5 linked regions of the Homo sapiens genome follow. The protein of the gene in region 1 purifies or fractionates together with the protein of each later gene. This does not show direct contact. Each region holds a gene or a part of one and is shown in the gene's direction. Other genes may lie near its edges. The genes, in order: FAM171B, FGFR2, BMPR1A, SAR1B and STX6.

Evidence for each region.
Region 2: the proteins of FAM171B (region 1) and FGFR2 purify together in Homo sapiens (affinity purification with mass spectrometry; 2 studies listed by BioGRID and IntAct, with this or other methods). This does not show direct contact.
Region 3: the proteins of FAM171B (region 1) and BMPR1A purify together in Homo sapiens (affinity purification with mass spectrometry; 2 studies listed by BioGRID and IntAct, with this or other methods). This does not show direct contact.
Region 4: the proteins of FAM171B (region 1) and SAR1B purify together in Homo sapiens (affinity purification with mass spectrometry; one large-scale study listed by BioGRID and IntAct). This does not show direct contact.
Region 5: the proteins of FAM171B (region 1) and STX6 purify together in Homo sapiens (affinity purification with mass spectrometry; 2 studies listed by BioGRID and IntAct, with this or other methods). This does not show direct contact.

What each region holds. Positions count from the first base shown.
Region 1 is NC_000002.12:186,695,297-186,701,486, forward strand, and holds part of FAM171B (protein FAM171B precursor), read left to right. Parts: intron 1-6,190.
Region 2 is NC_000010.11:121,586,354-121,592,543, reverse strand, and holds part of FGFR2 (fibroblast growth factor receptor 2 isoform 1 precursor), read left to right. Parts: intron 1-6,190. UniProt on the Homo sapiens protein: Tyrosine-protein kinase that acts as a cell-surface receptor for fibroblast growth factors and plays an essential role in the regulation of cell proliferation, differentiation, migration and apoptosis, and in the regulation of embryonic development.
Region 3 is NC_000010.11:86,761,238-86,767,427, forward strand, and holds part of BMPR1A (bone morphogenetic protein receptor type-1A isoform 3 precursor), read left to right. Parts: intron 1-6,190. UniProt on the Homo sapiens protein: On ligand binding, forms a receptor complex consisting of two type II and two type I transmembrane serine/threonine kinases.
Region 4 is NC_000005.10:134,617,464-134,623,653, reverse strand, and holds part of SAR1B (small COPII coat GTPase SAR1B), read left to right. Parts: intron 1-2,601; coding exon 2,602-2,721; intron 2,722-6,190. UniProt on the Homo sapiens protein: Small GTPase that cycles between an active GTP-bound and an inactive GDP-bound state and mainly functions in vesicle-mediated endoplasmic reticulum (ER) to Golgi transport.
Region 5 is NC_000001.11:180,983,982-180,990,171, reverse strand, and holds part of STX6 (syntaxin-6), read left to right. Parts: intron 1-62; coding exon 63-188; intron 189-1,826; coding exon 1,827-1,933; intron 1,934-5,400; coding exon 5,401-5,495; intron 5,496-6,190. UniProt on the Homo sapiens protein: SNARE promoting movement of transport vesicles to target membranes. Targets endosomes to the trans-Golgi network, and may therefore function in retrograde trafficking.

The sequences.
Region 1 (6,190 bases):
GCTAGATTATCCATGTATATTGCATCTCCCTACCCCGCAACCCACTTCGCTTCATGGCTGTAGATTCTTGTCTGCTATTTGGAAAGAAAAAAAGCCTCCAATTTTCTGGCACGAGGGCTTAGGTTTTGTGAAACCAAAGTGAATTTTATTATGACGTTTGTTTTTGTTTTAAAATCCTGCCTGGTAACACTATATGAGTGCTGAAAATGAGATTTGAAAGAGTGGAATCAGCATCACATTTTGTATTGCTTGCTCATCGTCAAAAAGCAGTACACAGGCATGCCAGCTGCGATTCATGACACAGCCAGGATGATTTAATTTATCAGAGTGCTCTGAGCATAGGATGAAATCACCAAAGTGTGCAGGAAAGCATGTGTTTCTGACACCCTCTTAAACCAATTAATAACACTCAAGTGTGGCTAAAAGTCTTGAAAGGTATACAGTGTATGGTGGTTTTCCTACCCAGCTTTTAATAACTGAAAGTGATAATATGGTTTGGGTGAGGCTGCTGTTAGACATACTGTTCGCTAAAGTTAAGGAAATTGGATATATCAGATTGATTGGCCTCATTAATAGAGATATTTCATAAATTCACTATGAAGCCGAAGTCTGGGAGAGTGTTGGTGGGTTTTATGGTTTGCAGTATATTTTTATTTCAATGGACCTTTCAGGAATATTAAATGAATTTTGACTACTGTAATATATATATATATGTTGTGATTAGGGTTATGAACTACTGCAATAATATGAAACCTGAATCCAGCATGCAAATTAAAATGTTTGCTTTCTGATATTTGTGAGGGAATATTCTGAAAAAGCTGATTGTCTGGGAAATTAGCAGTTTTTGTTTTATTTACCTATTAGATTGAGATAAAGGAACCACACTCTTCGATAGATCAAACTAGAACCTGAGAAGTAACCTATGATGATTCTTCTTCCTCAAAAACTCTAATTACCCAAGCCAGTGGCAAACAAGGGAGTAATTCAATTGATTGCTGTTTTAGTTATTGGAATATTGAGTCTTATAATGCAACACAGCTTATAGACAAATGAAGTTAAAATATTCCTTTGAATGCATTGTGATCTCTCCATTGAACTGGTCTTCCTGTTTCAACCTTTGTTTCCCTACTGTCTGTTCTCCTCACACAGCTAGCGATCTTTAAAAAAAAAAAAAACATTAAATAGGATCATTTCTGCCCACACTCCTCCAATGGCTTCCCGTCTCTCTCATACTAGATGCCCAGATCGTGAAAATGGCCTACCAAGGTCTAGATCCTTTGTATCCTCCTTTTCCTCCCGTCTCCTTTAGCCCTTACCCTAACTCTCTCCACTGTAGCCACACTAGCTCTATTTTCTTTAGCTTGCAAGTGGACCCAAGTGTTTGGCCTTTGCACTTGCCATTTTCTCTGCCTGGAATTCTGGAACTTCACATTTTTCAGGTTTGCTCAAGTGTCTCAGTAACTGACAGACCTTTTCCTGACCAGGTGTTTAAAATAGTAATCTGCACATCCTTTTTGCTCTTACCCAGATTCATTCTCCTCCATGGTACTCATTATTCTCAGCTGTTCTAATAAGCCTGTTTTTCCCTTGATAGAACATAAGCTCTGTGAAAACATGGACTTTGTTTTGTTCACTGCTATATTTCTAGTATCTCGAAGAGCACCTGGTTGGTACCCATAGACATTCAACCATTTGTTGAATGGATGGACGGATGGATGGATGGATGGATGGATGGATGGATGGATGAATGAATGAATGAATTCACTTTCTCAGCATTTGTTCGTCTTCATTGGATAAATTCTCCATTGGAGTTTAGCAGGGGATTTATAAAGATAAACGTTATGTAGGAAAGTTTGTAAGTAGAAGTTATAAAGTATGTAAATTTTGGATCTTTAATTTTAGTTAATTTCAGTGTTTATCTTATGCTGACTACAGAAAACTGATTGATACCTATACTTGGGCCTACTTATTGGGTTTTGTGAAGAATTTGGGGTTTTTTTTGAGACAGGGTTGAGTGCAGTGGCGTGATCATGGCTCAAGTCAGTCTCAACCTCCTGGGCACAGCCTCCTGAATAGCTGAACTACAGATGCGTGCCGCTGGGCCCAGCTAATTTTTAATTTTTTTCTTTTTGTAGAGATAGGGTCCTGCTTTGTTGCTCAGGCTAGCCTCAAACTCTGGAACTCTGGGCTCAAGCAATCCTCCCATCTCAGCCTCCCAAAATGTTGGTTTACAAGCATGAACCATAATTCTTTACCTGAGTATACTTAATCTTCTTATGACCTAGGAGGATTTTAACATATATACCTTTAAATAGCTGTGATTGAGCTTGCATTCATTCTTTACCGCTGTATGATGCTTCTGATTCTTTGGACATGCCACATGAAAAACTGTAGGACTTTTCTCAGGCAAAATTTAGAAAACAAATATGACACATTCAATGACTGATATATGACTAAGCCTTATCAGTCCATAGTAGAGAAACTCACCATTGCCTTTGCTTAGTATTCTCTGGATTTTATTATTCTAAAAATTTATGTCTCTTTGTATTGCTGAGAAACAAGAAAGCAAGATTAAAAAAAAACTTGAATGTGAACATTTTTTAAAAATCAGGATTTAAAAAAGTACATTTCCATTTTCTCATTAACTTATAAAAACTCCATCTTCAGAGAGCAGTGAAAATAAAGACTAAGGTTGGTATCCATCAAATCAATTGTTTTCTCCAGTGTATACAACAGCTCTTATTTCTCCATCTGTACCAGTATTTGTTAGAAATATTTGAGGGTCCTGAGAAGAATTAATCTGGGAGCTAGTGGTAGTTGGGACAACCATATTATATTAATTCTGATGGCCCATTAGATGGGAGGCATGCTGGGGTTGGGGGAGAGAGGAGCTGGAGAAAAATAATGAGCTCCATTTAAAATTCTCCATGTGAAGCAGAGACACAGGGGATCTCCAGGGATCATAGAAATGTCTTTTCAGTACAGAGAAAGCTTCTTGAGAGGTATATTTTCATGGTGTGAAAATTTTTGATTGCATATTTCAGTGATATCTATTTTTAAACTTTTTATTTCGCAAGATGTTAAATATATAGAAAGTAAACAGGATAGTGTAATAAAAGCCTATACCTGTCACCTAGCTTTAACAATGGTCAAAATTCTGCCATTGTTTTTTCACCCATACTTCTACCTGTTTCCACTACGTGGGATTTGTTTTTAATTTTTAATTTTTATGGGAACACAGTAGGTGTATATATTTATGGGCTACATGAGATATTTTGATACAGGCATAAAATGTATAATTATCACATCAGGGTAAACATTTATCATTTGTGTTACAAACATTCCAGTTATACTTTCAGTTATGTTAAAATGTACAATAAGTTATTGTTTACTATATTTACCCTGTTGTGCTATCAAGTAGTAGATCTTATTCGTTCTACCTGACTATATTTTTATACTCATTGACCATCCCCACTTCTTCCCCACTCCCAATACCCTTCCCAGACTCTGGTAACCATCATTCTAATCTCTATCTCCGTGAGTTTAATGGTTTTACATTTTAGTTCCCACAAATGAGTGAGAATATGCAAAGTTTGTCTGTGCCTGGCTTATTTTACTTAATGTCCTCCTGTTCCATTCATGTTGTTGCAAATGAGAGGATCTGATCCTTGTTAATGGTTGAATAGTACTCCATTGTGTATATGTATCACATTTGCTTTATCCACTATCTGTTAATGGACACTTAGGTTGCTTCCAAATATTGGCGATTGTGAATAGTGCTGCAATAAACATGGCAGTACAGATATCCCTTCAATATACTGATTTACTTTCTTTTGGGTATATACCTAACAGCTGTATTGCTGGATCATATGGTACCTCTATTTTTAGTTTTTTGAGGAACCTCCTACTGTTCTCCATAGTGGTTGTACTAATTTACATTCCCACCAGTGGTGTACAAGGGTTTCTTTTTCTCCACATCCTCATCAGCATTTCTTATTGCCTGTCTTTGGATAAAAGCCATTTTAACTGGGATGAGATGAGATCTCATTGTAGTTTTGATTTGCATTTCTCTGATGATCAGTGATGTTGAGACCTTTTCATATACCTGTTTGCCATTTGTGTGTTTTCTTTTGAGAAATATCTATGCAGATCTTTTGCCTACTTTTAAATAGGATTATTGGGTTTTTTTGCCTATTGAATTGTTTGAGTTCCTTATATATTCTGGTTATTAATCCCTTGTCAGATGGATAGTTGGCAGATACTTTCTCCCATTCTATGGGTTATCTCTTCACTTTGTTGATTGTTTCCTTTGCTCTGCAGATGCTTTTGATGTGATCCCATTTAACCATTTTTGCTTTGGTTGCCTGTGCTTGTAGGGTATTACTCAATAAATCTTTGTGCAGACCAATGTCCTGGAAAATTTCCCCAGTGTTTTTTTGTGGTAGTTTCATAGTTTGAGGTCTTAGATTTAAATCTTTAATCCATTTTGATTTGATTTTTGTATATGGTGAGGGATAGGGGTCTAGTTTTATTCTTCTGCATAAGGATATCCAGTTTTCCCAGCACTATTTATTGAATAGACTGTCCTTCCCCTAATGTATGTTCTTGGCAACTTGGTTGAAAATGAGTTCACTGTAGATGAATAGATTTATTTTTGGGTTCTCTATTCTGTTCCATTGGTCTCTTTGTCTGTTTTTATGCCAGTTACAATGCTGTTTTGGTTACTATGGCTCTGCAGTATAATGTCAAGTCAGGTAATTTGATTTCTCCAATTTTGTTGTTTTTTTTTTAGCTCAGGGTGGCTTTGGCTATTTGGAGCCTTTTGTGGTTCCATGTAAATTTTAGGTTATTTTTTTCTATTTCTGTGAAGTATGCCATTGGTATTTTGATAGAGATTCCATTGAATCTGTAAACTGCTTCGGGTAGTATGGACTGAGTTTTGTTTTTTTTTTCTTAATAGGTCCTTTTAGAGGTAAAATGTACATATGTGAAATGTACATATTTTAGTGTACACTCTTGACAAAAAGATATACCCATATAAACATCACCCTATTGAGATATAGATGTTTATATCACCTTAGAAAGTTTCTTCATAGCCCCTTCCCAGGCAATTCCTGTCCCTCACCTGGAGACATCTGATGTGTTGATTTCATTTTCATCATAGATTAATTTTGCATTTTATAGAACTTCACAAAATGGAATCCATGGCGTGTGTCCAGCTTCTTCAGCTTAGTATAATTTCCACAGATTTTATTCATTTTGTAGCACATTTAGTAGTTTATTCCTTTTTATTGCTGAATAAATTGTATGAATTACCACAGATCAGTTTATTGATTCTTCTGTTGAGGGGTATTTGGGTTGTTTCCAGTTTTAGCTATTCTGAATGAAGCTGCTATATTCTTATACAAATCTTTGTGTGAATATGTTTTCATATCTGTTGGATAAATGCCTAGGAGTGGAATTGCTTGGCCAACTGATACACTTTTGCGGTGAAAAATGTTTTTGTTCCCCAATATTCTATGTAGCAGGAACTTACCTCTCTTAAGATGATTACTTTAAAAATAATGAAATTTAATGTGTAGTATTACTGTATACTTTTTCTTAAAATAATTTAAACTTCTCTTTAACTTTTTTTTTTCATACGGACTCTTGCTCTGTTGCCCAGACTGGAGTGTAGTGGCACAATCTCAGCACTCTGCAACCTCTGCGTCCCAGGCTCAAGTGATTCTCCTGCCTTAATCTCCTAAGTAGCTGGGATTACAAGTGCCTGCCACCATGCCTGGCTAAGTTTTGTATTTTTTTTTAGTAGAGACGGGGTTTCACCATGTTGACCAAGCTGTTCTCAAACTCCTGACCTCAGGTGATCTGCCCACCTCAGCCTCCCAAAATGCTAGGATTACAGATGTGAGCTACTGCACCTGGCTAACTTTATTTTTAAATTGTACATATTATATTATAACAACATGATATTTTAATAGGCTTATACATAGTGAAATAGTTAACTATAGTCAAACAAATTAACATATCCATCCTCTTATGTAGTTACCTTTTTTGGTGTGGTAACAACACCAAAACCTACTCTCACCAAATTTCCAGTATACAGTACAATATTCTAACTATAGTCCTCATGCTGTACCTTAGGTCTTTAGACTTACTCATCTTACATATCTGCTACTTTGTACTTTTTGTC
Region 2 (6,190 bases), on another chromosome or scaffold:
TCATTGAAGGATGAGGACCGAAGCACTTATCACCTGAAGCAATCGTGTGAGACTGGGGAACTTTTCGTTACACAGAGGGATGGCAGCTCTATAATTAACAGGTGTGGTGACATCTCCCTGCGTCTCTGGGAAGGGAATCTGGTAGGAGTTTGTGTCTGAGGCTTGTATAGCTACAGCTACAGGCCGATTATGGAACTGCCTCTTGGTGATTTGTGCTGGGACACCAGGATGAGTGTAATTTGCAGTGGTGATGCATTTTTACAGGGCTTTCATGTAAGAGGGAAAAAGTTCCTGGTTTCTGAAAGTCATGCCTGTACGTCTTTAATTTTGCTAATAATTAAAATGGATGTTTCCGTGATTGCTGGTTTTCCCTTGAGTGCGTGGCTCGGCAAAAACTGAGGAAGCTGAGCTGGGATTTCCTACGGTGTGGGCTTTAGGAGCAACCCAGGTTAGGGAAAAACTGTCATTTTTCATTTTGGCTTTTCAGGGCAGCGTTATTGTGAGTTTATTTCAACATAAAGTGTAAAATGGTCCCAGAGGATTTGTTTTACTGTATTTAATTCTTGAAGGAAGTTTAAAATTGTGTATACATGCAGGGAGGGACAGGTGAGGCAGAGGGAAGAAATCGTGGAAAGGGACGAAGTTCCCCGAGTGAGTCTTTGTGTAAGAATTTACATCCAACAATGTGGGTATTGTTGGAAGCAGGCCTGCTCAACCTGGGATCTGTGGATGCACTTATGGATCAGGAAGGAGGTCGATGAAGTTCTGGAAATTTTAGGTAATATTTTGTTAATGTCCTTTTGTGCATTTTTATGGGTTTATAGTTTCCATGAGCTATGAGTTCATTTGCATCCAGAATTATGAGATGGAAAAGAAAAGATGTCTTAGAGGAAGGTGCAAAACCTGGCAAAGAAGAGGCTTTGGAAAAGTATACAAGTCCCAGGCCTCAGTTTCCCTTTCTGTCGTCTGAGGGCTTAAGAAGATGATCTTTAGGGTCTCTTCATTAATAGTCATTGAATATTAATGTCCTCAGAAGTCTTCTGACTCTTCCACCAAAAGGTTGTTAGGAGATTTCCATTTGACCTGGACATAAAGAGCAATTAGCACAGGGGCTGGCATCCAGTAAGCACCGGGTGCATGGCCTTGTCGCCGTTGTCGCCAGGGAGCTGGGAACATGGGTCTTCCCAGTCCCGTGGGCTGGCTGTGCCAGGTGCCACAATGTCAAAAAACATCTAGGCTTTTGGAGACAGTTGAGAAGAAAGTTGTTTTTGGATGGAGGAGGCCCTTGGTGTTTCCAGGAAGCTGTGTTTGCTTTCTGTAGGGTCCCCACTTCCCCTCATCTGTTAGTCTAATACTGGCCACTGATTTGAGCCCTAAGACCAGTTCTTCTGTTGCAGGAGTTCGCTTTGGTGTCAGAGGTGATTAGGAAGGTCATTGAATTATAGATGAGAAAGGAGTTTTTAACAGCTGAAAATGGGCTCAGGTTTAGGCTCTGTGCTGGTGAATTGGAAGAGAGAGAGAGAGAGAGAGAGTGTGCGTGTGTGTGTGTGTGTGCGCGAGTGCGCGTGCGTGCGTGCGTGCCTGTGCCCCTGTCCATCAGTTCTCCATGATTAGAACTACTATAGCTTTGGTTAGCAGTAAGTTCCACCTTGACCTTCTGTGCACCAAGGTCTTATCTTGTAAGACTTTTTGGTTTGCTAATTTATTTGGAAGCTCAGTTTAGATAATGTCTATTGGATAGGAGAAAAATGTGACTGAGAAGTTCCAGGAAGAAGCCTGGGCCCTAACACTAGAGGGTCCTTTTCTTTTGGCCCCTCAGGGAAAGGTTATGTTTAGTCATCTTGGCTTTGTGCAATATCGTATCATATCATATGTCATATCATATATCATATATATCATTTGTCTTCTGGACACGTTCTGAAATAGTAGCAGTGGGGTTGGGCCCACTCAATTGACTTAAGAAAATAATCTCTAGAAGATTTTAGTTTTTAATATTTCAGATTAAATATGAGTTTTCCAGTTGGTCATTCATTGTTAATTTCCTTTTGGTCATTCATTGTTATAGGGCACCAGCAGAGGAGTGAAAACATGGTTATTGACTCGAAGGGGGGCAGTCCTCAATGCCAAGTACTATTCTGTTGATTAACATTATAAATATTTGAAGTCTAGTCAAGCTTGATTACCCTGAGAGGGGGCAACTCTTACTTTCAAGTTCTTCCTGACATTGTCACCTACTCTGGTTAATTAAGTCATTGTTGACATTAATGGCATCTTTGTTTACACCAACCCAGTAGGAGCTAAAATGAAAGGGCTTTTCAACCCTACACCCTTAATTACTTTCCCACCCTCCACAGAGTGTGACTCTGAAAAGTAACAACCTGAAAAAAAATGTAGTTTGTGTAGCAATTTTTTGTCAATCTTCTGAGAGGTGATGCTCTCCTGGACCAACGTGAGTTGGTCCAGAGTTCAGTAGCAGAAACGTCGAGGACAGGATCTACACAGAGACCTCCCTAAGTCAGATTTTTCCAGTATGGTTTAAGTCCTTTGTTAGAAGTATTGTAAATGCCATAATATTAACCATACGCATTTAATTGCAAGTTAAAAGAAAGGAAGAAAGAATATATCCGCATACCAAGAGTGAATGATTTAAAATAATCTTCTGTTTCGTATTATCTGCATCTTTGTTTTTCAATATGAGTGTTAATATTTAAGAGTTGACTGTAACTTGATAGTTAGCTTTGGAACAAGGACTTATTCTTGGTCAATTAAACCAAATACAGGCTTACGCAGTTAAATACACAATGAAGTACACATTCTTTATTAGTATATAAAGTGTTTCACAATTCATAGACCAAGAGCCATGTTTAATATTACTTATAGAGCAGAAATCTGGCAAGCCCAGAGAACTGGTACTTGTATCATTTTATACTGGCTCTCTCTGATTCAAATTTGGGGTATATGTGTGTGTTTCTGTTTTGTCTGTTTATTTCAACCAGTTAAAAGACAGAGCACTTACTATGCCAATGGCCCCGCATCAAGCCATAAGTAAAGACTTTATTCCTTTCAAGTCTTTCTGACCCAGTTGAGGGTGAGAATTCACAAAACCACAGCAATCCAATATGAGATGTTTTTAATATCAGACTTAACAAATAATTACATGGCTATGAAATAACTGGGGTCGTGTTTAAACTGGAAGTGTTTTGTTTAATGTTCGTAGTTTCAATAAAATGTATCCACTAGTCTTCCAGTTTGCAGACTGTTGTTTAGGTGTTTGTTTAGCCAGGGTAATTGTTAAAAACTCCCTCTAATCTAGCTTACCCTTACATTTCCATGGAAGCGAATTTTAGTCATTAAAGGAAAACATGGGAAATTGATTTTTGGGTGCCTGGCTGTTAAGCTAGGTAGGAAATATAGCTGGTGTGCTACTCTCCACTGTACTGGTCCGATTCTCGCCAGGGGGACATCTCTGTAGGCAGTTCAGAAATTATTTTTTGGAAGTTTTTTAGGCTATTCCACAGATAATTCTGATCCAGTAGGTTTTATGCAACTGTGCAAAATGCTTATGGTCTCTATTTTTTTTTCCTTGAGAGATGATTTTAGCCTTTGGTTTTTTGTTTGTTTTTGTTTTTTGAGACAGAGTCTTGATCTGCCACCCAGGCTGGAGTACAATGGTGCAATTGTACCCTCACTGCATTGTCAAACGTGGCTCACTGTACCCTCGGACTCCTGGGCTGAAGGGGTCCTCCAACCTCCTGAGTAGCTGGGACTACAGGCCTGGATAATTTTTAAAAATATTTCGTAGATATGGGGTTTCGCCATGTTGCTCAGGCTGGTCTCCAACTCCTGGCAGCCTTGGCCTCCCAAAGTGCTGGGATTACAAGTGTGAGCCACCACACCTGTCCTAGCCTTAAGTTTTGCATTTTTTTCCATCTTTTTGCTGTATCCCATATGATTTAGAGATTTTTGCTGTATCCCATGAGATTTAGAGATGGCTCTACTTTTTTTAGCTTTCCTAGCATTGAAATGCTTGGTGTTGCTAATCATACCCCATCTTTACCACACCATCTTCCTCCCTGACTTGCCTTCTTAGTGTAGTTTGGTCAAGAACTTGAGGCCAAGTTCTTTTTTTTTTTAAATTTAGCTTTTATTTTAGGTTTGGGGGTACATGTGAAGGTTTGTTATGTAGGTAAACTCGTGTCATGGGGGTTCGTTGTACAGATTGTTTCATCACCCAGGTATTAAGCCCAGTACCCAATAGCTATTTTTTCTGCTCCTCTCTCTCCTCCCACCCACCCTCCACCCTCAAGTAGACCTCAGTGTCTGTTGTTCTTTTCTTTGTGTTCATGAGTTTTCATCATTTAGCTCCCACTTATAAATGAGAATATGCAGTATTTGGTTTTCTGTATTTGGTTTATTGCTAAGGATAATGGCCTCTAGCTCCATCCATGTTCTTGCAAAAGACATGATCTTGCTCTTTTTTATGGCTGCATAGTATTCTATGTTGTATATGTACTACATTTTCTTTATCCAATCTGTTACTGATGAGCATTTAGGTAGATTCCATGTCTTTGCTATTGTGAATAGTGCTGCAATGAACATTTGTGTGCATGTGTCTTTATGGTAGAATGATTTATATTCCTCTGGGTATATACCCAGTAATGGGATTGCTGGGTCGAATGGTAGTTCTGCTTTTACCTCTTTGAGTAATCGCCACACGGCTTTCCACAATTATTGGGCTAATTTGCACTCCTACTAACAGTATATAAGTGTTTCCTTTTCTCTGCAATCTCACCAGCATCTATTATTTTTTGACGTTTTATTAATAGCCATTCTGACTTGTGTGAGATGGTATCTCATCGTGGTTTTGATTTGCATTTCTCTAGTGATGAGCTTTTTTTTTCATATGCTGGTGGGACGTATATATGTCTTCTTTTGAAAAGTGTCTATGTCCTTTGTCTACTTTTTATGTGGTTATTTGTTTTTCTCTTGTAAATTTAAGTTCCTTATAGATGCTGGACATTAGATCTTTGTTAGATGCATAGTTTACAAATATTTTATCCCATTACGTAGGTTGTCTATTTACTCTGTTGATAGTTTCTTTTGCTGTGCAGAAGCTCTTAAGTTTAATTAGATCCCATTTGTCAATTTTTGCTTTTGTTGCAATTGCTTTTGATGTCTTTGTCATGAAATCTTTGCCCATTCCTATGTCCAGGATGGTATATTGCCTAAGTTGTCTTCCGGGGTTTTATAGTTTTGGATTTGACATTTAAGTCTTTCTTCCATCTTGAGGTGATTTTTTGTATATGGTATAAGGAAGGGGTCAGCTTCAATCTTCTGCATGTGGCTAGCCAGTTATCCCAGCACCATTTATTGAATAGGGAGTCTTTTCCCCATTGCTTGTTTTCATCAGTTTTGTCGAAGATCAGATGGTCGTAGGTGTGCGGTAGGTGTGTGGCCTTATTTCTGGGCTCTCTATTCTGTTCCATTGGTCTACGTGCCTGTTTTTATACCAGTACCATGCTGTTTTGGTTACCGTAGCCCCACAGTATAGTTTGAAGTCAGGTAATGTGATGCCCCCAGCTTTGTTATTTTTGCTTAGGATTGCCTTGGCTATTCAGAGGCTAAGTTCTTTTAAGGAGAGGTCTGATTGAACAAGATGCTGGACAGGTCATTGTGGTGATCCTTCACGTCTTGAAGATGTCTCCTTCTGTAATAGACAAAAGTCACACTTTTTACAAGTTTCTCTTTCCTCACTGTGATTTGTATGTGGTAGCTGACTTCTATTTATATAACTTCAAGCTCTTACCATTTAAATATTTATACACAAGTATGAATCATTGGGACAAGCCATGGCCATCCTTGAAGAGTGTGTGTCAAGTAAAATAGGCGTGCTTTAGATTTTCAGTAATTTTGGTTTTGGGAAACCGGTACCATGGAAGAGCTTTCAGATGCTGAATGTGTAATTTACTCCACTTTGGAATACTGTAAGTAATTCTGCGCCATTGTGGACTTTGGCCACATCATGCCACTCTCAAAAACTTCTGATTCTTTTTGACAGTACCAAGTCAGGGGGCTAAGCTGTTGTATATTCTTTCCTTTAACCCCTTGTCTAACTAAAGAATGGTAAATTCCAATTCATTTCAGAATGGAATGCACACATATAGAGTTTCAGGTTATGCTGAATGTGTTT
Region 3 (6,190 bases), on another chromosome or scaffold:
AATTATCTTTGAGTATCTTTTATTTACTCTGATGTTGTAGACTTTGTTACTCTTTTATAGTTTTATATTTCTGATGAGCCTTCCTTTCTTATGGCACAGATTTGTTATACTGTTAAAGTCTGGAACAGTGGAGCTTGGCTCTTGATCCAGCTGTATATAATTGGCTGTTGACTTATGAAGGAGGACAGGAGTATGCTAGAGATAGGGATAAAATATTATAATCACATTTGCAGTTAGGGAGATTAGTTACATGTTGGAAAATCATTTTGAAGAAAGGAAGACTGAAGATGTTCAAACTTGTAGGAAGGTCTTTCTGGCCTAGCCCGGATTAAACCCATTTATGCCTAGTGTTCCACTATTGGAACGCTAAGCACGTGGGAGTTATTTATATCCTGCTCAAGGTCATCACCAAGGTCTGATTGCAAAAATTCAAAAAATTGCAGCCTCAGGCATAAATGGGTTAAGATGGTGGCAGATAATTAGGGCCTGGAATGGATAGGAGGCGATAACTAGCGTGGATGAGAGAAGGAATGGGATTGGCAAGAACAACTCCTGGATTTCTAGCTTGGAAAGCAGGGTAGATGTGGGTGACAGATATGAAAAATGAGGTGGGAGAGCTGGTTTGTAGAAGAAAATAGTATTGGATCACATGGAGTTTGAGATATCTGAAACAGCCAAGTAGGGATTTCCACTTGGCAGTTGTCTATATGGGTCTGGGGTTTGACAGAGGTTTGTGCTGGAGGTAGGCATTTGGGAGTCATTGCTGTATAGATTTTATATTCCAACAGTGGGAATTGGGTGGCTCTCTCAAGTGACTCTTGCTTACAAGTGACAGCCCTAACTCAAGTTAGCTTAAAGGAGGGAAAAGCTTCTCCCCACTAACCCCCATGATATTGAAAGGTCTAGAAATAGACATGGCTGGACCTAAGTGCTCAAATGATATAATTAATTGAGGTTGTCTTTTCTGTTCTTCACTTTTGTGGTCTCATTTCAGGCAGGTGCATATATCTGGCAGAGGAAGACATAGGTTATAGGTTATAGAATTACAGGTTATAGGTTATAGACCTCGTATCGAGAACTCCTTGTATGGTCTAGCAAAGAGCCTAAAACAGCATTGAGAATTTTTTTTCTTTCTTTTTGAGACGGAGTCTTGCTATGTTTCCCAGGCTGGAGTGCAGTGGTGCGATCTGGGCTCACTGCAACCTCCGCCTCCTGGGTTCAAGTGATTATCCTGGCTCAGCTTCCCGAGTAGCTGGGTTTAACAGGCGCCCGCCAATACGCCTGGCTCCTTTTTGTATTTTTAGTAGAGACAGGGTTTTGCCTCGTGGGCCAGGCTGGTCTCAACTCCTGACCTCAGGTGATCCTTCCGCCTTGGCCTCCCAAAGTTCTGGGATTACAGGTGTGAGCCACTGCGCCTGGCCAGTCTTGAGAAATTTCAACTTAAGGCCTGGGTAGAGAAGATAGACATTAAATAATTATCTAGTTGTAGTTATGTTAAGATCTACAAAAAGGAAGTCCAGGGAATGTTACAAGACTGATAAGGGAAGCTGGGCTGTTCAGGATGCGGGTACTTTGGAAGGCTTTCCTGAGAAAGGTAGCCCGCAGAGTGAGACCTTAGGCAAGAAAGGACAAGGAGACTGTTTTTGGAAGTATTCAGTAGTATTTATTTATTTATTTGAGACGGAGTCTCACTCTGTCGCCCAGGCTGGAGTGCAGTGGCGTGATCTTGGCTCACTGCAACCTCTACCTCCCGGGTTAAGCGATTCTCATGCCTCAGCCTCCCAAGTAGTTGGGGTCACAAGCGTGAGCCACCACGCCTGGCTAATTTTTGTATTTTTAGTAGAGACGGGGTTTCGCTGTGTTGGTCAGGCTGATCTCGAACTCCTGACCTCGTGATCCGCCCACCTCGGCCTCCCAAAGTGCTGGGATTACAGGCATGAGCCACTGCGCCCGGCCAGAAGTATTCGGTAAAGTGAGCAGTTTTTGCAGCTTTTTAAAAATTTTAAAGGCAATACATCTATTGTGGGTAATTTGGGAAGTATAAAAAGCCATAAAGAAGCAGCGGAATGATTAAGTTTCAGCTTCTAATTTTTTATAAATAATGTCTGATACTGGTTTTACTACTGAGTACCTATTCAATCACGGATGCCACACTAACCCAATCCGAATCTTCGTTTCTTTATCTTAAAAAATAGAAGGAACATGGTGAACTTTAAGATAATTTTTCTGCTTAAAAAAAGAAAAAGAAAGAAAATATCTTGACTTGCAGCACAGTTAGCTGCCGAAATTGAAGGTCATATAATGCTTTTGGTCCTAATGACATCACTGGACTTCTGACTTTTGGCTGAAGAATCACGCCAGCCTTGGCAGTCCTTGCAAGTACCAAAGGGAGTATGGCTTATGCCTGCGGTGCCCTTCCCGTATCCTGCTTTCTTACCTCCTTTTTTGAGCATTAATTTTTTTTTCTTTAGCCTTTGGGTAAAGTATCAAAATGTTGAGAAGATAGACTCTCAATTTTGAAGGTGAGAAATCTGTAGGAGACTTGGATAGTTGTTTTTTTTTTTTTTTTTTTGAGACGGAGTCTCGCTCTGTCGCCCAGGCTGGAGTGCAGTGGCGCATGTTGGCTCACTGCAAGCTCTGCCTCCCGGGTTCACGCCATTCTCCTGCCTCAGCCTCCTGAGTAGCTGGGACCACAGGAGCCCGCCACCACGCCTAGCTAATTTTTTCTATTTTTTAGTAGAGACAGGGTTTCACCGTGTTAGCCAGGATGGTCTCAATCTCCTGACCTCGTGATCCTCCCGCCTCAGCCTCCCAAAGTGCTGGGATTACAGGCGTGAGCCACCACATCTGGCTGACTTGGATAGTTTTGATACTGTTTTATGTATATTAAGATTTGTAGGTAGTTTTCTTACTAGTAATTAAAATGCTTTGTAATGTATTTCAAGAGTATAGGGTCTTGAGTGTTTTAAATTTGTATATAAGAATGTTTTAGATTCCTGGCTAAAAGAAGCTCTTGTTAGAAAATATTAAAGTAAAGGCTGTTAAATTTTGGTGAGGCTCTTAATGTCTGCATTTTTCAAGAATCATTTAAAAATGTCATGAAATAAAAATATTTCAGTGGTAACTGTTCAGAAGTATCTTAAATGTATACCAAATCAATGAAATATAATCGCTGGGTGACAGATTATTCTTCCTTCATTTTATAATCTTTTATTTAATAAAAATGTGGGGGAAAAATTGCATGTTGAAGTTGTACGTGTATATTTTAGCAAAAACTGTTAATCTTTCTGAAGTACTGCTTTGGTCATCATCCCTATTTGTTAAATATTTTTCCCTGTTTTCTTATTTGCTTACAATAGAAAATCCAGAATATCTTGGACTGGTCTCCTGCTCTGGCCAAGTCAGCCTTTTCTGCTTTGCTTCCTTTCCTACTATTTTATCAGCCTAAGTCACGTAAATATCCGATTCAGGTTTGGGTTCAGAATCCTTAGACCTCTACTGTCCACTACAATAGATAGCCACTACCACATGTGGCTGTTGAAGACTTGAACTGTGGCTAGTCTAAGTGTGAATTACGTACCAGATTTTGAAGATAGTACCAAAAGATGTAAAATATCTCATTATGCTTTTAAAATATTGGTTATATAGTGAGATGATACTGTTAGGGATACATTGGATTAAAGAAATATATTAAAACTGATTTTGGCCGGGCATGGTGGCTCATGCCTGTAATCCCAGCACTGTGGGAGGATTGCTTGAGCCCAGCAGCTTGAGACCAGCCTGGGTAACGTGGTGAGACCTTGTCTCAGTTAAAAAAACAAAACTGATTTCACAGGATTCTTTTTACTTTTTAAATGTGGCAACTAGAAAGTTTAAAATTACACGTCATATTGGACAGTACTGCCTTTGACTTTCCTTTCCCTGGTTCTTTGCCCATCAGAATGCTTTAAAATCTAGTATAAATCCTTGGCCAGGTGCTGTGGCTCACGCCTGTAATCCCAGCACTTTGGGAGGCCGAGGCGGGAGGATCACGAGGTCAGGAACTCGAGACCAGCCTGACCAACATGGTGAAACCCCATCTCCACTAAAAATACAAAAATTAGCCGGGTGTGGTGGCACGCCTGTAATCCCAGGTACTCAGGAGGCTAAGACAGGAGAATCACTTGAACCTGGGAGGTGGAGGTTGCAGTGAGCCGAGATTGCACCATTGCACTCCAGCCTGGGCGACAGAGTAAGACTCTGTCTCAAAAAAAAAAAAAAAAAAAAAAGAATATTCCTCTCTCTCCTATGAAGCCCTCCTCAGTGGTCCAAGCCTCATAGTTGGCTCTTTGCTGCATCATTATTTGAAGATAATCTTTTGGTATATTAGATTTCTTTACTACAAACCTTCTCAGAACTTTTAATATGCTAATACACATGGTGAAACTCTAGTATAGTTTCCCTAACTACGTATTACCATAGAACTGTGTGTTTTCTGTTAACAGAAGTTACACATATTTGTGGTTGAAATTTCAAACAATACAGAAATGAAGTAATGAAAGTCTTCTGTAATCATGCTTCACCTGTGCCCCAAGATTGCCACTGTTGAAAGTATAGAGCTAGAAAAAATTTTCTTTTCTGTTGCCTTCTTTCTTTTTTTCTGTCCCCATTTCCTAAAATGGGGTCATACGATACATCCTTATCTTTAAATTTATTTTCACTGAATATATAGGGGGATTCTTTTTATGTCAGTAAATTTCAATTTCCTCATTCTTTTTTTTTTTTTTGAGGGAAGGTCTTGTTCTGTTGCCCAGGCTGCAGTGGTGCTGTGGTGCAAACAGCTCACTGCAGCATCCAACTCCTGGGCTCAAGCAATCCTCCCATCTCAGCCTCCTGAATAGCTGGGACCAGAGGTGCATGCTACCATGCCCAGCTAATTAAAAAATTTTTGTGTGTGTGGAGGTGGGATCTCACCATGATGCCTAGGCTGGTCTCGAACTCCTGGGCTAAAGTGATCCTCCCACCTAGGCCTCCCAAAGTGCTGAGATTACAGGTGTGAGGTGTTGTGCGCAGCCTTAATCATCTCATTCTTTATAGTAGTTAAGCAGTTATTCCATTTTCTGATTATACCTTAATTTTACTTACCAGTTTCGTGTTAATGAATAATTAGATTATTTCCATTTTTTTCTTTTGCATTGCAAATATGCTGTGGTGTTTGTACATATCCTTTGAGACTGTTTTTATTTTATGAAATGAATTCTTAGAAATGCATTTACTATAAGAGAAGCCGTGCAGATTGGATGGAAAGTGCCAAGCCACCCTGCAAAATCTTCGTAACCATTCATATTCCAGCCAACAGTATTTGAATATGTTCTCTCCTCCCAACATAATCATATCAGTCTTTTTTTTTTTTTTTTGAGACGGAGTCTCGCTCTTTCACCCAGGCGGGAGTGCAGTGGCGCTATCTCTGCTCACAGCAAGCTCCGCCTCCTGGGTTCATGCCATTCTCCTGCCTCAGCCTCCCGAGTACAGGCGCCCGCCATCACACCTGGCTAATTTTTTTTTGTATTTTTAGTGGAGACGGGGTTTCACCGTGTTAGCCAGGATGGTTTTTTTTTTTTTTTTGGAGACCGAGTCTTGCTCTGCTGCCAGGCTGGAGTGCAGTGGTGCCATCCTGGCTCACTGCAGCCTCTGCCTCCCGGATTCAAGTGATTCTCCTGACTCAGCCTCCGGAGTAGCTCAGACAACAGGTGCACGTCACCATGTCCAGCTAATTTTTGTATTTTTAGTAGAGACAGGGTTTCACCATGTTGGTCAGGATGGTCTTGATCTCGTGACCTCGTGATCCGCCCGCCTTGGCCTCCCAAAGTGCTGGGATTACAGGCGTGAGGCACCACGCCCGGCCATATCAGTCTGTTTTTATCTTTGCCAGTTTGCCAGCTGAAAAAACATTCATGATATAAGGTTTCTTTGCTGTTGTATGAATATTAAAAAACAAAAAATTTTAAGTTTCATTTGTCTTATACTCTCAACTTGTTATACGCTCCTTTGATTTTTGTGCTAAAATATTTCGTATTGCTAACAGTACACATGCATGCTTTGTACAAAGTAAATGTTCAGATATTTGTATCTGTTCATGGCAAAGGCGTCCAGAATATGCTACTGCAACATAAAAATTATTTGGAAACCTGGTGGCTCATGCTTGTAATCC
Region 4 (6,190 bases), on another chromosome or scaffold:
TATATGCTTTAATGCTTTATGTCATTTAATCCTTACAGGATTATTATTAAAATGCATGTTCCATAAAGTAGCTTGTACACCATAAATAGCAGTTTTTAATAAGCCAAATGAGACTTCTTTACCCAGCAGTTCTTTTTTTTTTTTTTTTTAATTTTATAGAGACGGAGTCTTGCTATGTTGCCCAGGCTGGTGTTTTGTTTGTTTGTTTGTTTCTGAGATGGAGTCTCGCTCTGTCGCCCAGGCTGGAGTGCAGTGGCGTGATCTCAGCTCACTGCAAACTCCACCTCCCAGGTTCAAGCGATTCTCCTGCCTCAACCTCCCGAGTAGCTGGTACTACAGGTGTGTGCCACCACACCAGCTAATTTTTGTATTTTTTGTAAAGATGGGGCTTTGCCATGTTGGCCAGGCTGGTCTTAAACTCCTGAGCTCGAGTGATCTGCCCACCTCAGCCTCCCAAAGTGCTAGGATTACAGGCATGAACCACTGTGCCCAGCCTTGCTACAGTTTTTTCTTTTTCTTTTTTTTTTTTTTTGAGACAGAGTCTCACTCTGTTGCCCAGGTTGGAGCGCAGTGGTGCGATCTCAGCTCACTGCAACCTTCGCCTCCTGGTTCAAGCAATTCTCCTGCCTCAGCCTCCCGAGTATCTGGGATTACAGGCATATACTATCATGCCTGGCTAATTTTTTGTATTTTTAGTAGAGATGGGGTTTCACCGTGTTGGCCAATCTGGTCTCGAACTCCTGACCTCAAATGTTCCACCTGCCTTGGACTCCCAAAGTGCTAGGATTACAGGCGTGAGCCACTGTGCCCGGCCTCCTTGCTACAGTTTCTAGGTAATATTGGTCCTTTGTTCTCTATAGTTATCTCCTTTAATTTTATTTATATAATAGTGCTTATTTGTGTTGAGCCTCTTTATATATGAAGCAATAGTTAAGAATAGTTAAGGCCGGGCGCGGTGGCTCACGCCTGTAATCCCAGCACTTTTGGAGGCCGAGGCAGGCAGATCATGAGGTCAGGAGATCAAGACCATCCTGGCTAACACGGTGAAACCCCGTCTCTACTAAAAATACAAAAAATTAGACAGGCATGGTGGCACGCGCCTGTAGTCCCAGCTACTTGGGAGGCTGAGGCAGGAGAATCGCTTGAACCCAGGAGGCGGAGGTTGTAGTGAGCCGAGATCATGCCATTGCACTCCATCCTGGGTGACAGAGCGAGACTCCGTCTCAAAAAAAAAAAAAAAAAAGAATATGGGCTTTGTAATTATACAAATATGTTCAATTACTCGATTGAACAAATATGTTCAATTACTTTTAAATTATGTAATCTTGGGCAAATTACTTTTTCGTGACACTCATAGTAGTGACAGTCATAGAAGTAGATTCCTTAATGATAAAATATATATATAGTTCTGCCCCCAAAACTAAAAGATTAGGACATCAAACAATTTACTTCTTAGACTTAAGCATGGACAAAGGAGTAAGTGTTATTTTAGTATGAATCTATTCAAAAACGGATGGCCTGAAACTATAATTGCCTAATGTCTTTAAAAGTTTGTTTATTTCAGTCAGGTGTGGTGGCTCACATGTAATTTTGTGGAGGTTAGACCATTAAACATGTAAAAAATAAAGTTTGGCTGGGCGTGTGGCTCACGCTGATAATCCCAGCACCTTGGGAGGGCAAGGTGGGCAGATCACTTGAGGCCAGCCTGGCCAACATGGTGAAACCCCATCTCTACCAAAAAATACAAAAATTAGTCAGGCGTGGTGGTGCACACCAGTAGTCTCAGCTACTCAGGAGGCTGAGGTGGGAGGATCACTTGAGCCCAGGAAGTTGAGGCTGCAGCAAGCTGTAATCATGCCACAGCACTCCAGCCTGGGCAACAGAGTAAGACACTGTCTCTAAATAAATCAATTAATTAAGTTCAATATGAAATTTAGCAGTTCAATTCCAGTCTATTATAAATTGGTCAATGCTGCCTTTTTTCTATTTATCAATTTATCTATCAATCAATACCTGATTGATACTTCTAAAATTAATCAGCATTTTGGCATTGTAGATATGTTAAGGCAAAACACATATTCTATTGACTGGGTTGAAGTTTGGTTTTATAATTATCTGAAGTCCCAAATCATGAATAGATTTATTTATTTATTTATTTATTTATTTATTTATTTATTTTTTGAGACAGAGTCTCACTTTGTCGCCCAGGCTGGAGTACAATGGCATGATCTCAGCTCACCACCGCAACTTCTGCTTCCTGGGTTCCAGTGATTCTCCTGCCTCAGCTTCCCAAGTAGCTGGGATTACAGGCATGCGCCACCACACCTGGCTAATTTTTGTATTTTCAGTAGAGACGGGGTTTCACCGTGTTGGCCAGGCTGGTGTCAAACTCCTTACCTCAGGTGATCCGCCCACCTCGGCCTCCCAAAGTGCTGGGACTACAGGTGTGAGCCACCGTGCCCGGCCATGAATAGATTTAAAATAGCTTTTTTAAAACTGAAAATAGGTTTAGAACTTCAAGCTTAATTGGGCCAAATTTAAATTCATTTGGATAATTAGTATCAGATATCACTTTGACCAATCATAGCTCTTGCTTTGCAGGATTATATAAGAAAACTGGTAAACTGGTATTTCTTGGATTGGATAATGCAGGAAAAACAACATTGCTACACATGCTAAAAGATGACAGACTTGGACAACATGTCCCAACATTACATCCCAGTAAGTATATTCCTACATACAATGTGATACTTGATCAAATGATGCTGAGTCATATGCACTAACCAAAAGTGTTTTGTTTCAGACAGGGTCTTTCTCTGTTGCCCAGGCTGCAATGCAGTGGTATGATCACAGTTCACTGCAACCTCTGTCTCCTGGGCTTAAGCCATCCTCCCGTCTCCCAAGTAGCTGGGACCACAGGCATGTGCCACCATGCCCAGTTAATTTTTATATTTTTTCAGAGACCAGGTTTCGATATGTTTCCCAGGGTGGTCTTGAACTCCTGAGCTCAAGTGATCAGCCTCTCTCAGCCTCCGAAAGTATTGGGATTACAGGCGTGAGCCACTGCACCTGGCCAAGTTTTTTGTTTGGGGGGCATTTTCTGGTAGATAAATTATGATCAGGTGATTTGACCTGTTCCTAAAATAATAAATTATAGGTGACCTCGCTCCCAGGGAGAATATTTAGATCTTGAATTAGTACTCATACCTTTTTATCAGCTAGTACTCCCTTCTCTAGCTTGAGGAATTAAAAAGTTTTTGTCTGAGGGATTGTGACATGATTGGTAAATAGTCCACCATCGCCTTGTTTACATAACCTGAATTTTTTCTTTCAGATTTTTTTTTTTTTGAGGTGGAGTCTCACTCTGTCGCCCAGGCTGGAGTGCAGTGGCACGACCTCCGCTCACTGTAAGCTCCACCTCCCGGGTTCACGCCATTCTCCTGCCTCAGCCTCCCGAGTAGCTGGGACTACAGGCACCCACCACCACGCCCGGCTAATTTTTTGTATTTTCGGTAGAGACGGGGTTTCTCCGTGTTAGCCAGGATGGTCTTGATCTCCTGACCTTGTGATCCGCCTTCCTCGGCCTCCCAAAGTGCTGGGATTACAGGTGTGAGCCACCGCGCCCAGGCTTCTTTCAGATTTTAAAGCCATATTACTTTATTTTATTTGTGTAGAGACAGGGTCTTGCTCTGTCATGTAGGTTGGAGTGCCGTGGTATGATCATAGCGCACCATTTAAACTCCCAGGTGCAAGTGATCCTCCTGCCTCTGCCTCCCAAAGTGTTGGGATTAAAGATAGGAGCCATTGCACCATGTACTATTTTAAGCACTAATTCAGTAGATACATTACAATTTTATACATGGCTGGTAACTCAATTTGTTAACCAGTTATTTTTCTAGTCTTAATAACCTCAACAATATCTAATGTACACCACAGAATTAATCTAAAGAAAACAAGGCATATATTGACACACAGGAAGTTTTAAAACAAGGGTGGGTGTGGTGGCTCATGTCTGTAATCCCAGCACTTTGGGAGGCTGAGGCAGGAGAATCACTTGAGCCCAGGAGTTTAAGACCAGCCTGGGCAACATACTGAGACTCCATCTCTACAAAAACAAAAACAAAAAATTAGTCTGGCATGGTGGCATACACCTGTAGTCCTAGGTACTTGGGAGGCTGAGGCAGGAGGATCACTTGACCCTAGGTGTTCAAGGCTTCACTGAGCTATGATTGCACCACTGCACTCCTAACCTGGGCAACAGAGTGAGACCCTGTCTCTAAAGAAACAAAAAATACCAAAAAAATTGAAAGTTTTTTTTTTTTTGAGATGGAGTCTTGCTCTGTTGCCCACGCTGGAGAGCAATGGCACGATCTCGGCTCACTGCAACCTCTGCCTTCTGAGTTCAAGCAATTCTCCTGCCTCAGCCTCCCAAGTAGCTCAGATTACAGGCATGTGCTACCACACCCAGCTAATGTTTTGTATTTTTAGTAGAGACGGGGTTTCAACATGTTGGCCAGGCTGGTCTCAAACTCCCGACCTCAGATGATCCGCCCACCTCAGTCTCCCAAAGTGCTGGGATTACAGGCATGAGCCACCACACTTGGCCAAAAATAATGTTTTTTAATAATGACTCTAATTTTTTTTTTTTCCTTTTTTGAGACAGAGTCTCACTCTGTTGCCTAGGCTGAAGTGCAGTGGCACCATCTCGGCTCCCTGCAACCTCTGCCTCCTGGGCTCAAGCAATTCTCCTGCCTCAGCCACTGGAATAGCTGGGATTACAGGCATGTGCTACCAAGCCCAGCTAATTTTTGTATTTTTAGTAGAGACCAGGTTTCGCCATGTTGGCCAGGCTGGTCTCGAACTCCTGGCCACAAGTGATCCACCTGCCTTGGCCTCCCAAAGTGTTGGGATTACAGGCGTGAGCCACCACACTTGGCTGACTCTGTAAATTATTTAATAAATTTTATTTTGCATTTAAGGTTATGTAACGAATTTGAGAATAAAGTTAATGTTAAAGTGGGTAAATTATTAGAAACAGAAACCTAATTTAACCTGTGACCTTACTTTTACAGGTGAAAATTTTATGAATCAGATAGACACAGAGTTTAAAGACAAGTTAATCTATAGATTAATTATGAAATAGTAAGTGTAGCCTTAATAATGAATATAAAATTGAGAACTGGACCAAAAAGTAGATAATACTGTAATTATTTAGTCCAGTAAATGTTCAAAGAACAAAGAATGAGGATAGAACAAAACAAAGTATTTTATCTATAAAACAATTAGTGAGGTTGGAAAAGGAAATTGACAAATCTTTTTTTTCTTTTTATTTTTTTTGAGATGGAGTCTCGCTCTGTCACCCAGGCTGGAGTGCAGTGGCACGATCTCGACTCACTGCAACCTCCGCCTCCCAAGTTCACACCATTCTCCTGCCTCAGCTTCCCGAGTAGCTGGAACTACAGGTGCCCGCCACCACGCCTGGCTAATTTTTTGTATTTTTAGTAGAGACAGGGTTTCACTGTGTTAGCCAGGATGGTCTCGATCTCCTGACCTCGTGATCTGCCCGCTTCGGCCTCCCAAAGTGCTGGGATTACAGGCGTCAGCCACTGCGCCCGGCCAACAAATCTTTTTTTTATATTAGGAGAAAAAAGTGGGGCTTGGCAAGTAAGATTCTGATATAAGAACAATTCTGTTAAAGAAAAAATGATCATGGTGAAATTGAGTAGATAAAATTGTCTGCAAAAACAGCGTAATTTCCAACCTGGCCAACATCGTGAAACCCGTTCTGTACTAAAAATACAAAAATTAGCCGGACACGGTGGCACGTGCCTGTAATTCCACCTACTCGGGAGGCAGAGACAGGAGAATTGCTTGAACCCGGGAGGCGGAGGTTGCAGTGAGCCAAGATGGCGCCACTGCATTCCAGCCTGGGCGACAGAGGGAGACTCTGTCTCGAAAAAAACAAAAAACACAGAAAAAAAACCCAACAAAAACCAGCATAACTGGAAGAGACTACAGAGTGGTCTTAAATATTAGGTGTAAGTCATTTTTTAATTTTTTGACGTTGCTCTATTTCATTTATTCAAATATTTATTGAGCACCTACTTTATGTCAGACATTGTTCTGGATACTAGGGGAAAACAGATGCTATCTCAACCTTTCCTGCAGCTCACATTCATTTCAACTCATA
Region 5 (6,190 bases), on another chromosome or scaffold:
ACTTGTTCAGAGATAGTAATTGTTTGTTTCTCCTGACTCCTCTGGTTGTTCTTCTCACACAGGCACTGCTGGGAGACAGTGGCAGCCAGAACTGGAGCACTGGAACAACAGATAAATATGGGCGTCTGGACCGAGAGCTCCAGAGAGCCAATTCTCATTTCATTGAGGAGCAGCAGGCACAGCAGCAGGTACCCCAAGGACCCCAGACTTAGGACGGGCCAGTGGGAAACAAGACACCCCCTTAGTTCCTTTGCCAGCCATGGGGTCTTGTGGCTTAGTGACAAGGAGGGTAAGCCAGAGCTTGTCCTGTGTTGATTGTGTTTAATAATTGCATATGTAAAGGGTTTCAAAATCTTCACAGTGTGACTGCTTCAAGAGAACCAAGCTCAGCCAGGCGTGGTGGCTCACACCTTTAGTCCTAGCTACTGAGGAGGCTGAGGCTGGAGGATCCTTGAGCCCAGGAGTTCAAGGCTACAGTGAGCTTCGATCATGCCATTGCATTCTAGCCTGGGTGACAGAGCAAGACCCTTTCTCTAAAAAAATAAAGAACCAAGCTCAGTTAGTTCTCTTAGAAAAAACAGACCTTTGTCCATCTCAGCAAAGACACTTTCAGAAAGATCTCTCATTTTTTTCTTCGAAAATTATTGATTGGTTTCTTTTTTTTTTTTTTTTTTGTGAGACGGAGTCTCACTCTGTCACCCAGGCTGGAGTGCAGTGGCACCATCTCGGCTCACGGCAACCTCCGCCTCCCGAGTTCAAGCAGTTCTCCTGCCTCAGCCTCCTGAGTAGCTGGGACTACAGGTGCACGCCACCACGCCCAGCTAATTTTTTTTTTGTATTTTAGTAGAGACGGGGTTTCACCTTGTTTCTCAGGCTGGTCTCGAACTCTTGAGCTCAGGCAATCCACCTGACTCAGCCTCCCAAAGTACTAGGATTACAGGCATGAGCCACCGCGCCCGGCCTATTGGTTGGTTTTGTTATATGTAAAGATGACTGCTTTTGTGTAGGTTAAGGGGTAGAAGGAAAATGAAATTGATTATGTCTGTTGATGCCTTTGATATGTAGCTGTATTAATAAAAGCAAGCTAATGATAATGTGTCTGGGGATTTGAGGAGCATGTACCCATTGAAACTATTGATTCTTAAATATTGTGTTTTATGTATACATGTAGTTTATATGTTCTTTTGTTCTTTACATTAGTATGTCTGCTTAACCAGTTGTCTACTTAAATTGCTATTAAACCCAGGAAATTTTTTTTCTATAGAAAGTGAGAAGAATGCAACACAACTAAAAGTAAATATTTGTCAGTCAGTAGTTGTCCTTGAGGTAACTTATTGCCACAGGGAATCCTTTCGTTTGTCCTTGAAGAGAGAGGAAAGACTGCATAGTTTCCCCACATCCAGAGATTTGCCAGACTCTCTTGTATTTAAGCTGTGGCAGTCTGTTGTGGATTGAGACCTTGATCTTGGCAATGGGCTTCCTCCTCCCAAACATCCCCATGTCTCAATGGTCATCTGCACGTGTGCTTTCAACCATTGTCTGCTCCATTATTGGACGTCAGCCAACCAGAGTAAATCTCTCTTGGTGGTTTCAAGCCCCGCTGACTGTTCACAAGTTGGATCAGCAGGAGATATCAGTAGCTTAACAATCCAGCCTTTTGAGCAGTGTGTTCTCAGAGGCAACGGTCTGGTCCTTTGATTTCTGGGCTTTGCTTCTGAATGTGAATTGTCCCAAGTTGGCAAAGAAACTAGCAGCTGCTAGAGTGCTGGGCTTGGAACCAGGTAAGATGGATTTTAATTGCTTATTTCCCATTTCTCTGGCACCAGTTGATCGTGGAACAGCAGGATGAGCAGTTGGAGCTGGTCTCTGGCAGCATCGGGGTGCTGAAGAACATGTCCCAGCGCATCGGAGGGGAGCTGGAGGAACAGGCAGTGTGAGTATTGAGACACCCCTCTCGCTTCAGTGAAATTGAGGGGCAGAGCCATCCTATGACACCCCTAAAAAGCCTGGCAGCTACGTGGCTGGTAAAATCAAAAGCTATTTTATTCATAGCTGCATTTTTATTCTGTTTTACAGATTAGCCTCCCCAAAAGAAGCAATTCTACTTCGTAAATTTTACTACAGGCTTTAGGTGAAGTTGTTATTATTTTTAAACACCTCCAAAAACAGACACAGATGTCTCTGAGCAGATACTCGAAGTATAGTTATGAATGGGAATATGAAACAGAGAAGCCTCTGTAACCTGTGGGAATTTTTGTTCCAGAGAGGATAGGACATGAGCTGACTTTATCATCCCATGACTCTCCTGCTATATTGAACAGACACGTTTTGCTTTGAATCTTAAATTATTGTAACTTTGTTTTTTTTTTTTAAAAAAAACTTACAAATTTAACGCCAGTTAATAAAAACTCTTTCCTCTCAGAAAAATAAATAAAAACAAAACATAACCTCAGTTTGTTTTTCCTTATGAACAATCCCTTTTGCACCCAGAAGTTCGATGGCAAAAACTGCATTCTTAAATGCTGCCACATCATTTTGTAAATCTTTTGAAAGAGAAAAATGAAAAAACAGTCCACCAGGATATTTCAGAAACTTTCCTGTCTCGATATTACGTTTATCATGACACATTGATTGATTATGAATTCTTAGTGGGCCCGTGTTCTACACCGGGCCTTCTGGAAGCCAAGGGATATAGAAGGGAACAGAGCAGACAAGACAACCCATCTCTGCCAAAGAGTTTGCCGCTTGCAGGGTAGAACGGATATTGGGTAAGTGGCGAGGGGTCATTAGGTGATGGCAGTGAAGTGGGAGGGCCCCTGTGATGGGGCCAGTGCATGCTGCCTGGAGAGCCCTGACTTAGCCCAAGGTCCCTGAGGAAGAGGGGTTTAACTGAAATCTGAAGGATGTGTGGATGCTAGCCAGGTGAGGTGAGAGTTGGTGTGGAGGCAGGTGGTGTGGGGTGTGTAGACCAGGAGGAAGAAAATGCACCTGTGAAGATGGAGAGGTGCACACGTGCATGGAGCAGAGAGGTTCCATGTGTCTGGAGGCAGAGAACAAACCAGGGAAGGCCTTGTCAGCATGGTAAGGAGGTACGACTACTTATTCTCAGCATAATGAGAGACCAGTGGAGGTGAGGTGAGGAGTGATGGTGTGATCAGGTGTGATTTAGATGATGTGCTGCAGTGGAGTCAGGTAGGGAGACCAGGTAGGAAGCTGGAGTAGCCAGAATCTGTTTCATGTCTATCTAAAATGGGTCCTGACCCTAAAGTTCAGTTTGAGGAGGGGAAAGGACTAATGGCCTGAGCTTCTCTGTTGATGAGGCAGCCTGGCTGGGCAGTGGGTAATAGAGTCAGAGGGACTTCCAGTTAAAGATGGTGCATTGACACACCCCTACCTCCACTCCCTCTCCACAGCTCACTAGAACAATAGTAAAGGGGTTTGTTTTTAAGGGCATGAAACCGCTGGGCATGGTGGTTCACACCTGTAGTCCCAAGTACTAGGGAAGGAGGCTGAGGTGGGAGGATTGTTTGAGCCCAGGTGTTTGAGGCTGCAGTGAGCTATGATGGCACCACTGTACTCCAACCTGGGTGACAGAGGAGACCCTGTCTCTAAAAAAATAGAAATAACAGATAAATGGGAAAAAGCATGGGATTTGGACTTAGACCTGTGCCATCCAGTATAATAGCTACTAGCCACATGTGGCTGTTGAGTAAGTGTTATGTGGCCAGTCTGAATTGAGATGTGCTCCAGAGGTAAAATGCTTACTGGATTTTGAAGACTTCATATAGAAAAATATAAAATAGCTTATTAATAATTTTTATATTACATGTTGAAATTACAGTATTTTGGCTATATTAAACTAAATACAACAGAATTAATTTCACCTGTTTCTTTTGAAATTTTTACAAACATGGCTACTAGAAAATGTAAAATGGCATATGTGACTCATATTTTTGTTGGATGGTACTGAGATAGATTTGGGCTAGCAACTTGGTTGGTGAGTGTCCATGGACTGAAGGTCGGATGATGTGCCTGATGATGTGCCTGTTTTGTCTTCAGTATGAAAAGTCATACCTAGCGCAGAAAGGTAGCTCTTGCTTTTTAGAGTTTGGCCCTGCCTGGATAGGCCTGCCAGCTGCAGCGCCAAGATGCTGCCAGGATCTAAAATGAGTTAAATATTTTTTAATTTGAAAATTTAGGTAAGGGACAAAGACTTATTTTAGTTGTCAACATATATGTAACAGTTGATTTAATGAAGAGTTGGTTGCCCTGAATCCTGCAAGGCTGTCAGGTGTCTATTGTGGGCACAGATCAAGACCAGGAGTTTCTAACTGCCATTGATGCTGTCAGAGTTAATACAGCCTTTTTAGTAAGACTGTTAGTACTAATTGGCATATTACATTCTAGCCTCAGAATAATCATTTACTAATCAAAAGTTGAAAAGTCTGGAATATTTAGTGACTTATGAAATAGGCACTGCTGAAATAGTATTTTGGGGTTTTCTTTCCCAGCTGCACATTGGACAGCAAATAGTGTAAGCCTGCTGGAGTCAGTTTTCCTAGTGGGAAATACTGGTTTCTCTGTGAGGACAGATGGGGAAATGCGCGTGTGCATGCACAGACACACTGTCACACACCCCATCAGGGATGTTAGTCCTGAGGCCTTCTGGGTTTATAATAAAGCACGTAGTGCCTTATAGGAGGTTATTTTATTAAAGTACATTCCTTAACTCATATTGACATAAAGTGCTTTTGTTTATTACCTGGTTCTCACAAGAGCCCTGTGAGGGAAGTTGAGCTGATAGGATTGCCCTATTTTACAGGTGAGGAAACAGTCCCAAAGAGTTATAGAGTATGTTGTCGAAGGTAGCAATGTAAACAAGTGGCAAAGCCTGGTTGTCTGCCTCAGATAGCATTGTTTCTACCACATTGCACTGCCACTGAGTTTGTGTTATTGTATAGACAGGTCTATAGTCTTGCAGTTCTGAAATCTAGGAAGCTCTAAAGAAATCTCGTTGTTTTTTTTTTCTTTAAATTTGCCGCAAGCTCATGTTACAGAAAAACCTTACCTGAACTGACTCCAACTGTGATTCCTCATAGTTTTCTCTGCAGAAATATTAAGTATCTGATTACGGGGACTGCCCCAGACCCTCCTGGTGGTGTCCTCCTAGTGGTGTCGACTAATACAAAGGATATGTAATTTAGGCTTTTTTTAATCCTGAGAATTCCAAAATCAAAATCCTATCTTGTCCCAAGGATTTTGGATAACAGAGTGAGGTCCTGAAACCCAGTGTTGCCTATTTTGTTTGCTAAAATGGAGGCCTGGTCCTTTTAACCCAGTGCAAGTGCACTGCCAAGGCTTTGTGCTTACCAGCGACCTTCTGTGTCTGCTTCTCTCTAGTATGTTGGAAGATTTCTCTCACGAATTGGAGAGCACTCAGTCCCGGCTGGACAATGTGATGAAGAAACTTGCAAAAGTATCTCATATGACCAGTGGTATGTATGGCGTTTAAAGCTTAAGCATTTGTACTTAATTCTAGAACTCTGTCTTGGGGGTGTTGTCTCATAGTTATGCCCATCCAGATCCCTTTCTTATTTTTTACAGATCCCTTTCTCTTTTTTTTGAGACAGAGTCTCACTCTTTCACCCAGGCTGGAGTGCAGTGGTGCCATCTCAGCTAACTGCAACCTCCACTGCCTCCTGGGTTCAAGCGATTCTCATGCCTTGACCTCCTGAGTAGCTGGGATTACAGGTGCGTGCCACCACACCCAGCTAATTTTTGTATTTTTAGTAGAGACATGGTTTCACCATGTTGGCTAGGCTAGTCTCGAACTCCTGACCTCAGGTGATCCGCCCGTGTCAGCTTCCCAAAATGCTGAGATTATAGGCGTGAGCCACCGTGCCTAGCTGATCCCTTTCTTATGGCACATTTTTTTTTTTTGTGATGCCTTAGAATCAGAGAATGGAAGACTTGTATGTGCAGTCTTTATCTTCTCCTTGTAGCTTTAACTTGGGAAAAGTTAAGGCTTTGTGATCCCCCACCGTGTTTGGTTTTTTTCCCAGTAGAGTCACTTTCGTTGTGTTTTTTTTTTTTTTTTTTTTTTTTTTTGAGATGGAGCCTCACTCTGTTGCCCAGGCTGGAGTGCAGTGGCGTAATCTCGGCTCACTGCAAGCTCTACCTCCCAGGTTCA